Homo sapiens: one gene and its partners. The protein of the gene in region 1 purifies or fractionates together with the protein of each later gene. This does not show direct contact. Each region holds a gene or a part of one and is shown on either strand. Other genes may lie near its edges. The genes, in order: RADX, GABBR2 and RAPGEF4.

Region 1 (3,656 bases):
AGATAGCACCTACTAGTAAGTGCAAAATATATTCGTTATTAACTTAATATTATATGACCAAAAATAAAATAAAACAAAATAAGTACAATCCAAGTGGAGCTCATTCTTCAATCAACAATAAATGTCTCAGATAATTTTTCTTAATAAATAAAATAATAAATAGGTATATTTATTAGGTTATGTGATTGCTTGAAAATTTTATGGACAAATAAATTTAAAGGTTTCATAGGTTCTAACAGCTTCAGTAATTTTTGTGGTCTTTTTTCCTAATATGGTACATTGCAAATTTATATAAACAAAACAGCGATAAGACAACAAATTCATGGAATACTTAACCCATTGTAGAAATTAGTTTGATCTGTGGATCCACGGGGACAGGCTGTATTCTGAATGGATAACTCTTTTTAACAGAATAGTCTTGAAGCAGAAGAACTAAACCAACCCGCAAACTTTTATACCACTCAGGACACAGGGCATTCCACATAATCACTGACACTGTGCCTGAACTGTCAGCAACTTCCAAAAAGGTCTAGAAAGAAAATGAGTAAAAGCACATACATATTTGTCACTTTTATCTGTACAGATAATATATAGCATATTATTTGTGATCATTTAGAGTGATGGAAAATAACATCTAAATTTTAATTATTTATTAATAATGATTCAGTTGTCAATTTTGCTAATATTGATCATCTAAAGATTAGAGATAGAGAAATGTATTGAGGTGGAAAGTATTTGGAGTTTTTCTCAGTATTAAAATACAGTGACAGACAACTTCAGTTGGGCCTAAAAGGCAGTCCGTAAAGTGTTTTCTAATTCTTAATTTCTTCTTAAATAATGATGTTATATTCTCAGACCCTTTCTCTAAATGATGAATATACATTTTGGGTAATTCATTCCTTTATTCATTAAACATTTACTGAATCCATATTCCAGAGATTATGTTAGGCCCTGGAATGCAGAGATGAATCAAACATTGTACCTAATAATAATAGCTAAAATATATATAGGACTTGCTATGTGCCTGGAACATAGGTAAATCCTTTACTAATTCAATCCTCACATCAATCCTGTAAGGTAAGTACAATTAGTATCCATATTTTACAGATGAGTAAACTGAGGCTTTAAAAGGATAAATAATTTTCCCTACATCATAAAGGTAAGAAATGGTAAACAGCTGAAACTTGAATTCAGTTCATATGACCACAGGGCATGCACTCTTAAGCACTGTTAGATACTTCTTCCCTACAGTCAGGGAGCGCACAGTAGAGTAAGATTAGCAAATCTATTAACAGGTATGTGTAACTGGGTTATGCATGCTCTGATAGACCTATGTAAGGGCATATAGTGGGGTCCTGAGTAGCATGTAGTTGATTCTCCCAGTGACTAGGCATATGGGTATACATGGAAAGACTTAAATCAGAGGTAAGCACTGAACTGAATCTTAAAGATGGCTTTGCCAATCTGATGAGAAGTGAGAGGAAGAGGATTCTAGGCAGAAGAAACAACGTGAGCAGAGGTATGAAAGGTAGAAAACAATTGGTTACTGTTAGAACATTCCAGGTAGGGCAATTTGGTTAGTATGAAGCATAGAGAGCTCAGGAAGAGATGAGACTGGAGAGGCAAGCAAGGGCGAAATGATGGAGGCACAAAGAGGTAGGAAGGCAACAAATAAGCGGAGTTAAAAAATCAGGGAGGAAAGTATTGCAACAATGAGAAGGCAAAAAACTATCGGGGAATGACTGAATAATTTATGATAGAATGTGCTAAAAATATATAACTGTAAAGTATTATGGATGAAGAATTTTTAGTGATATGAGAAAATATTTAAGAAAATGTTAAACGACACAAAATTGTATGCACAATATGGTTCCCATTTTGTAAAATAATGTAATGTGATATATGATATACACACTCACATGAAATATATAATACATCTACATATGCACATATATGTGATATATATGATTAAATATCATAGATATGTGTATGTATATATATATATGATATGCTTGTATATGTGTATATATGTGATTTACACACACAAGAAAGGGAATAAAACACACCATGTTAACAGTGGCTCTCTCTGAGTGGTAAGATCTTCAAACAGCTTTCTACATTTTCCAAATTCCCTACAATAAGCATGTATAACTTTCATAATAAAAGTTTAATGAAACATCTAAAATAGTTCTTGATATCATGGGAAAGTACAATATAATATTAAGTAAGAAAAAAATAGAACACAAACATATCAAGAAAGTAGAGCTCATGAGCATTATATGGCACAGAGAGTCAAGACAATAGAGAAGTATCACACAGATTTGACAATTAGAGTTACTAGTGAATGATAAGCTAAGGAAAAAAGCCAAGCTAACTGTGTTGAGAAATGGGAGGCAAGAAAGTAAAAACATCTAGTGTAGACTACTTCTTCAAGAAGCTTACCTGAAGAGAAAGATAGGGAATAGAAGAGTCATAAGGCCAAAGGAGATTCTTTTCTTTTCTTTTTTTAAATGGGAGACTAGAGTATGTTTATATATTGGCACAGAAAGCATAGGTGAGAAGAAAAGGTTGAAGGAAAATAAAAAGGTGGGAAGGAGACCACCTGGATCAGGGAAATAAAGGGCACCAATACAGAAATAATTTCTTTTTGTACAATAAATTATGCAGAAAAATACTTTATAATATACATTTACGTACATTTAAAAATTATTACATTGAACTTATGAAATGTTATTTAAACGAACAGGTTATCATACTATGGAGTGAGGTGTGTAAGCTATAATTTATAACTTTTAAATTAACATATGATATCTTATTACTTGTACCTGATATGGTTCAATCATCTTTTTATCAGGTTTTCCATAGTATCGCAGTTTTGATTTATGTAAGATCCTCACAAGCAATGCAGGAAAATTTCTTCTGTTAGTCCAGGTCATTTCAAGATGAGAAAGGGAAATTATTTTGGTATCTAGAATATAAAAAAGAGGAAAGAAATCCTGTTTAACATGTAATGGTAACTTCAAAGATCTATTTTAATGGTTAAAAATAGTAGCTTGATCATACCTAAAGTGACTCCTTCTTGCCAGCTAAACCTTGCCAGCTAAGTCTATTACCTCTCATAAACTACATTTGATCCCTAATATTAACAGCTGAAATATATATAGGGCTTACTATGTGCCTGGAACATAGGTAAACACCTATATTAACCAACACATTGTCCCACCTAGAATGCCCTCCATCTTACCAAACCATTTAATAACTTCCTGGAAAACCTGGATTTAAACTCACCTCCCTTAAGATATTTTGTGAAAAAAAAAACCTCAATGTCATGGAATATTTTTCCCATTACTAAGCACTTATATATTTAATTTATAGAAATGGGCCAGGTGCAGTGGCTAATGCCTATAATCTGAGCACTTCAGGAGGGCAAGACCATCAGCTTGCTTGTGCCGAGGAGTTTGAGACCAGCCTGGGCAACATGGCAAAACCCCCATGTCTCTCCAAAAAGACAAAAATTAGCTGGGCCTGGTGGCATGTGCCTATAGCTCCAGCTACTCAAGAGGCTGAAGTGGGAGGATCACCTGAGCCCAGGCAGCTGAGCTCACTGCAGCCAGGCTGCAGTGAACCATGATCACACCACTGCATTCCAGCCTGAG
Region 2 (3,656 bases), on another chromosome or scaffold:
GTAATGGTAACTTTCCCCCAGGAGGCCAAGAGGGGGTAGTTAAGGAATTCAATGAGTTTAGTCTTATGATGGGGCAACTTGCTGTCCTGATGGGACTTCTCGAGGCATCTGGGCTGTCAATCTAACTTTGAGAGCTGATTATGTGCCCAGGCCTGTGCCAAGTGCTAAGAGGTATGTTGAGCATTTAAGGTTTGTATGGAGTGGACAAAAGTTGCCTCACTTTTTTTTGTGGCAGTATATGTGCTATTTGTTGTAAGTAAAATAAAATAACAGGAGAAGAAAACTCTTTTCTGTTTTTCAGGAAATAGGTTTGACCTAAGCAACTGCTATCAAAAAAAGCCAAACAAACAACAAAATAACCCCGGACACAGTGGCTCATGCCTCTAATTCCAGCAACTTGGGAGGCTGAGGCAGGAGGATCGCTTGAGTCCAGGAGTTTGAGAAAAGCCTAGGCAGCATAGTGAGACTGTCTCTTAAAAAAGTAAAATAAAATAAAATAAATTAATTAAAATAATTAATTAATTAATTAAAAAACCAAGCACACACACAAAAGTCTAGAGCCTCCAAATTCCTTCTTTGCAAGCAGGGAGAAATTTAAAAATCTCAAAAACCAAAAAAACTGTTTTCTTCAGAATCAGACTTGTTCCCGACAGCCCACGAGTTCATGCAATGTGGCTTCTGGGCACCATGGCAGAGCCATGGCACCATGTAGGTGGTCACTGTGGCTGTCCCCATGACGGCCCATGCTCTGCACCCCTGCTTATTCCACAAAAAGGCTTGGGGCTGGGTTCAGGGATTTGCTATGGACACCAAAGAAGCAAAATGCACTTGGTAAAAACCACCGCCTGGAGTGGCGGCCTGTTCTACCCATGACTGACCAGAATAACTCAGTCAGCCTCTCTCCTCTGGAGAATTAAGGGCACGTGGTGGGGAAAAGAAATTAAGACAAGAAACCAAGAAGACAGTCTGCCACGAGTGGACAGCAGCACTCTGTCGCTGAACTTCAGGGCTTTTCTCTGTGAAATGAGGAGTTATCCGGAGGGTCATACGGGATGATGGAAGGGAGGGCTTCCTGGCCGTAATGAACTGTACCAATGGGAGTCCATTTCACTGGACTTTGTGACCCCCTTCAGTGGTGATTCCCAGCGATGCTAGGGGATAGGGGCAAAGAAGTTTGGGGTATTCTGTCTTCTATATCTCTCCTCCTGGACCTCCACAAAGTACAGGAGTATATCCAAAGCTCTGAGAAGGCCCGTGGACTTGGACTCTTCGATTTTATTTAACTTCCTCAAACTTATTTGACTAAACTCCTGTGCAACCAGCAGCCTGGCCTCTGTGTGTGTGTGTGTGTGTGTGTGTGTGTGTGTGTGTGTGTGCGTGCACGCACACACACGTACTCACATGCATGTAACACCTACAACATCCTAGCAACGGAGGAACACTTTGGGAAACTCTGCCCTGCAGACTTCTGTGTCCCTGGGGAATCTGTCATGTGGCACTCCTATACTGTGTCCATAGGCTTGTCAATTTAGAAAGTGATATCACAGAGGAGGACCAGGGTGGCTTACTTCTGATTCCGGTTCTTGATGTTGAAGAAGAGAAAAGCACTGGCCATGATCATCCCGAGGATGGTGAGGGCAGAGAGGATGCTGTAGAGAGGTAGGGAGATCTTCCGCAGCTGCTCCAGGATGATGGTCTTGTCTTTTGGTGGTTCGGATCCTAGAGGATCAAGAGAAGACATCAGTGGGACCCAATGCAAGTCATTCCCCGAGAACACCTTTGCCTTAGTGTCCCTGACATCCAGCCAGGCCCTGCGCACAAACTCTACACAAGGCACATCTATCTACCGGGTGAGCCAGATCCGGTGGTTGGCCAGTCTGCTCAACAGGGAGCCTGAGCTAGGACTGTATTTCTTTCTCTAAATAGAATCAATAAAGGATTTGTGATGCATTTAATAGCCATTAGAAGACTAGAATTTGATTTGGTCTAATTACACTATTGAAAAACCATCACCATTTATCCCCCAAGGCAACAACGGCCTGGAAGCACAGGGCTGGGTGATGTGAGTGGGTACCCGTGGGTGCCTTCGGGGATGAAGAACTTGGCTTTGGCCTCAAGATCTCTGCTCCTAAACATACACAATAAATGATCCCTCCTCAACAGGATGGACACCTTGCCTGTTGGTTCCATGGTGACACATAGGTGTTTTGGCTGCAGAATTTCTGCTTCAATGTCATTGTGTTTTAAAAGCTCTATCTGGCTTTCTGTTTCCACAAGACTCTGAGTAACTGTGGGAGGCAGAAGCTACCTTCCTCTCCCTGCTGTGCCAGAACTGGCCTGGAACTGTGGGATTCCATTTCTCTATGTGACTGCAGAGGTGCGCTGCTCATTCTTCAAGAGCACAAGGAACTCGGGGGAACCCTGAGGGTTTCAGAGCAAATCCATCTTTCAGTCCTGTTTTAGTTTTAGCAGACATAGACTGGTTTGGGATGAGGGATTCAGGGACTCCCCCAGCTTCCTGCGAATCCCTCTTTCTTAGCTGCTATTTTAGGTCAGGTTTCTGCTGTGGAATTGTGAAACTTCAGGGCTTTTCTCTCCAGTAGGGGTATGTGGAATCAGCCGGATGTTACAAAGTAGCCAAGCCTGGGAATCTGGGAGCCCCACCAGGGTCCCAGTTATGCCTCTCTTCCCAGGAGACAAGCAGGAAAGGGGCAGATGTGGTAGCAGGGAGTGAGAACTCCCCTGAACATCTGGGTTTAAAACACTGCTAGCAAGTTCAAATGTGTTTAGAAATATTCAGTGGCTTTGGCTGAGCGTGGTGGCTCATGCCTGTAATCCCAGCACTTTGGGAGGCCAAGGCGGGTGGATCACTTGAGGTCAGGAGCTCGAGACCAGCCTGGCCAACATGGGGAAACCCCGTCTCTACCGAAAATACGAAAATAGCTGGGTGTGCTGGTGCACACCTGTAGTCCCAGATACTCGGGAGACTGAGGCAGGAAAATCGCTTGAACCCAGGAGATGGAGGCTGCAGTGAGCCAAGATTATGCCACTGCACTCCAGCCTGGGTGACAGAGCAAGACTCCATCTCACAAAAAAAAAAAAAAAAAAAAAAAAAAATAGAGAGCGAGAAACATTCAGTGGATTAAAAGAGTTTGAACCATGTAAGAAATTTAGGAAAGTTTCCAGGTTTGAAAACATCAAGGAACCTGCTGATGTGGTTAATGTGAAGCCTTAAGCAATTCCATGTAAACTAACATTTATAAGAAAAGTGGCATCAAGGGCCAAAAGTCTGGGCTAAAGCAGACACAAGGAGATGGAGGTAACATCATTTCTTGCTTCCAGATGGTGAAAGCTCACCATCTGGAAGCTTCTTCCACCTCTGTCCATCATCCTTCCCCAAACACCTGGCTCAGGTGCCTTCTGGCTACCAAATGCAAGAACAGTGCTGGGGCATCTGTGAGATCCTGGCTGGAAACAAGCCCTTCTATGGACACTGAGAAAGAAGACTGAGGTTTGGTTCACAGGTGATATGATCACTACTGGGTTTGGGGCCTATTGTATAGAAACAACTCCAGAAAATTGACAATAGACAAGAGAAAGTTGTCTCCTTCTTACTCCTTCTTCTGTTCCTGCAAAATGATGGCTCCACAAGGGGT
Region 3 (3,656 bases), on another chromosome or scaffold:
ATCCAAACAGGATTTCATTATGATATGGTCAATTTCGATAACCATATTGATTCAGGATGAAGGATTTATGCGTATTGCAAAATGAATTCTTTCCCTTTTCAGGGACCTGGTATGAAGAAGTTTGGGGTTTCTCTTTCTAAAAAATGGTTAAACCAAGTACCTGTGTTAAACATCACCATTCTAATAAGAATTTCTGTTTTTTTCCACATGTCTCATTCCCAAACATATATTCATAAAAGCTAATAATGGCGTAAGTACAGATTCAAAATGATCAGCTTCATTGATGTCAGTAAAACACAGAGAAGGTTATTTCTTGGTCAGTTGTTTAGGTTACTTCTCAGCTTTAAAATTCCTTGAGATTGAGTGCCCAGCCTATAGAGATCACACCTTATAAGTTGATATTTTTCAACAAACAAGTAGCATTTGCATGGCAGGTAGAAGCCATGGTGGCTGCAGCTGTGAGACTCCCTTAGTGCCCTCTCAAGCTGCCAGAGGAGGATATCCACCTTCAGGCTAAAGGTCTAGAAATCTCCAAGGGCACTTCACTTTTTTTCTTACCCCATGAGATATTTCCCTCTCGGTCCAACAAGGCTTTTAGCAAGTTTGGGATTATAATAACAACCCCTAAGGTAGGTGTCTTTAAGTTCCTTCTCAGATCCCAAACCTCAATGGCTAACGTCTTCAACTTTCTAAAAACACAGTGAGAAATCAAACAGCAGAACATGGTCACCCAAGTGGAACTTTTACAGTACATTAAATCTATCATTGCCTGTTCTCATAAATGAGCCCTGACAAATATTAATGACTATCAGAAAATAGAACTCTAATTTTTTTTATCTCACACAGAAGTAACATTTTACTCAAACACGCATCTCCTGTGTTTCAGCTGTAAGGAGTATAAAAATCTGAATTCCTTTTTTGCCATCGTCATGGGACTAAGTAACGTTGCTGTGAGCCGCTTGGCACTAACGTGGGAGGTAAGCTTCAGCTAGGATCCAGCTGTGACTTTTGCCTTAGGAATAAAAACACAGGCTCACCAGTGAGCTTTTTAATAGAAATATCACTCACACTAGTATAACAATGGGAAAGGTGGGACACTTGGAGGGAGGTGACCTGTCTCCTTTTTCCAGTTGCCTCAGAGGGAGAATTTTTAAAAGATATTGTCCTTTTGTGTATGGAGAGTGGGGGAGATGAGGAGATGTCTACTTCTTGATATATGCAATGTAAATAAAAATAAGTCCAGTTCCTAAGTATAACATGAAGGACCCACATTGCTGGGAATGACTTCATAAGTTTGCTCATAGATTGTATTGTTTTCTGAAATGTCTGCTTGTTGCTTTTGCCATAAATCTTATCTTTAATTGAAAGAGGACAGAAGATCCATTTTTATCCAAGTACTCATTTTGCTTCTGGAAGGAAGAGCCAGGAAGCCAACTGTTTGCAGCAGTTGAGTACTAAGTGTCGCCTCACCACCTGGCAGACTTCTCTCCACGGAGAGGAACAACAGTTGGCTAATATTCAGTTTGGGGCAAAAGTGAGGCAGGTGTGTTGTGAGTCTCTGTAGCAAATATAATGAATGGTTTGTCGAGAGTTGGGTATTCAAGCTAGAAAACATCTTCATTTATTATTAGCTTTGTACTCAAAATGTGCTTGACCTCTTACACGTGGCATATAGTTGAAGAAATACTAATCTCTAATAGAACATACATACAGAAATAGACTCATGCTAAAAATAAAAAATTGTGTGTAAGTGGGACACAGAAAGAGGGCAAGGAGTATGTATTAGAGACCCAACTTGCAATGGTGCTTAAAGGCAGCTGTTTGCATCTCTAAATGCTTTTCTGAAATTATTTTCTTCCCCATGTCCTTCTTGCAATGATTTTCTTTTTCCGTCCCTCCTAAATGTTTCCATTGTTTGTAGGGCAGGTCCTCACAAGTCCTTCTGTCTTGGGTTTCTCTTAAAATTCCAGGCAGATGCAGCACACAGCAGCTCATCCCCTGAATATAGGAATGAGGGAATTGGTGAGGCCTGCGTGCCATGCAGCTATATCATCTTCCAGCTAGTAAAAGGACGGAGCTCGTGCTGCCAAGAGATCTAAGCACAAAGCCATAATGCAACTCCCTCGTCTTATAGTCCAAGGCTCTTGGGATTGCTGGAGACCTAGGGTCCTCCTGCAAAGAGTCTGCCTTCCCCAGTCAGCTACCAGCTTCTAATCCCCCTGCCACAGAGTCCAAATTAGTTGGTTGGGGACATTTTAAAAAACCATAAAGCCTCAAAGGGTCCAAGGAGGCCAGGTGTGGGTACCACAGATCAGCCAGACAATAAGAACAGAGCATGTGGGAAACACTCTCTGAACCCTCTTTCCCAGTCTAAATAAAAAAGTAGGAGGCTGCTGAAGAGGGTGCAGGCAGCAAAAGGAGATAGCTAACTGGCCAGTCCTTTGGTTTCACTAGGGATGGGAGTTCTGTGAGTCTATGAGCTTCTGTTTTCAGCACTGAATGTTGCTGAAAAGAGGAAATTATCCTTTCATCATTTATAAGCCTTTGTTTTTTAAGGTGAAGTATAATTATATAATTCTGTATGGGAGATTTCATTCCTAAGCACCTTTGATTCTAGTTTATGTACCTGCACTTGCCGAGAAAACCTCCCAAAAGCCTCCCATGCAACTCCATTGAGCACCACAGTGACCACAAGAGCAGTGTGAGAAATGCTGCCTGGCCTCATGGAACTAGGGGACACGTGTGGAACAGCCACGGAATAAAATAGAAAGGAAAGCCAGAGCACACAATAAAGGGAAGGGTTCAAAACTGAGGGGGAAGATCAAGCTGAGATGAAGCAAATGAGAATTACCTGGAGCACACACACTCTCTCAGCCTCAGCACTGGTGACATCTGGAGCAGAACAGTTCTTGGTCGTGGAGACGTCTTCTCTGTTGCAGGACAATTAGGAGCATCCCTGGCCTCTCCCCACCAGATGCTGGAAGCACCTCTTACCATGCCCCACCCCGGCTGTGACAACAAAAAAATGTCTGCACACATTACCAAATGCCTCCTGGATTGGCAGGATGGCCCTATTGAAAACACTGCTCTAGAAGCATGGGGGGGTGGATAAATAATAGTATTAAGAATGAAAGAAACATTTTTTATTACCCTGTGCCCTACTGTCTTTGACCTAAAAGAAAGCTAAGTAAAGAAAGAGAACAGATGACAGAGGTCTTGCCAAAAACATAATCCACTCTTATTTTTTTAAATGGACTAAATTCAGTAAGTCAATGTTTTTGCATAACTTGGTGATCTGGATACTCTGTGTGGGGTGAGATCCTGGCATCCCTTGATGCCCATCCCAGCTTTCAGCCCTTTGAATAGTCTCCCCTAAGTGAGGGCATCAAGTCTTCCTGAACCCTAACTTGAAATGCCAGAAAAATGAGTTTGGAGGATATACAGGGACTAGTTTTTAGAAACAAAATCGGGGTTTTACAGATGTTTAAATGGGAATATGACAAACTGAGATAGGAAAGAGAAAGAGCCAAGAAGAGCCATTCTGTGGATTGCAGAGGCCCAATTGGTGAATCAACTGTTGAAGGTAGGCTTCACTGTTCAAAGCCTCCTCCCAGATGACCCAGGAGTCTCTGAGACCCAGGGGTTGGTTGATGAGT

The links.
Region 2: the proteins of RADX (region 1) and GABBR2 purify together in Homo sapiens (affinity purification with mass spectrometry; one large-scale study listed by BioGRID and IntAct). This does not show direct contact.
Region 3: the proteins of RADX (region 1) and RAPGEF4 purify together in Homo sapiens (affinity purification with mass spectrometry; one large-scale study listed by BioGRID and IntAct). This does not show direct contact.

Annotation. Positions count from the first base shown.
Region 1 is NC_000023.11:106,621,963-106,625,618, reverse strand, and holds part of RADX (RPA-related protein RADX), read right to left. Parts: intron 2,969-3,656; coding exon 2,826-2,968; intron 530-2,825; coding exon 337-529; intron 1-336.
Region 2 is NC_000009.12:98,387,286-98,390,941, forward strand, and holds part of GABBR2 (gamma-aminobutyric acid type B receptor subunit 2 precursor), read right to left. Parts: intron 1,720-3,656; coding exon 1,569-1,719; intron 1-1,568. UniProt on the Homo sapiens protein: Component of a heterodimeric G-protein coupled receptor for GABA, formed by GABBR1 and GABBR2. Within the heterodimeric GABA receptor, only GABBR1 seems to bind agonists, while GABBR2 mediates coupling to G proteins.
Region 3 is NC_000002.12:173,029,278-173,032,933, forward strand, and holds part of RAPGEF4 (rap guanine nucleotide exchange factor 4), read left to right. Parts: intron 1-886; coding exon 887-977; intron 978-3,656.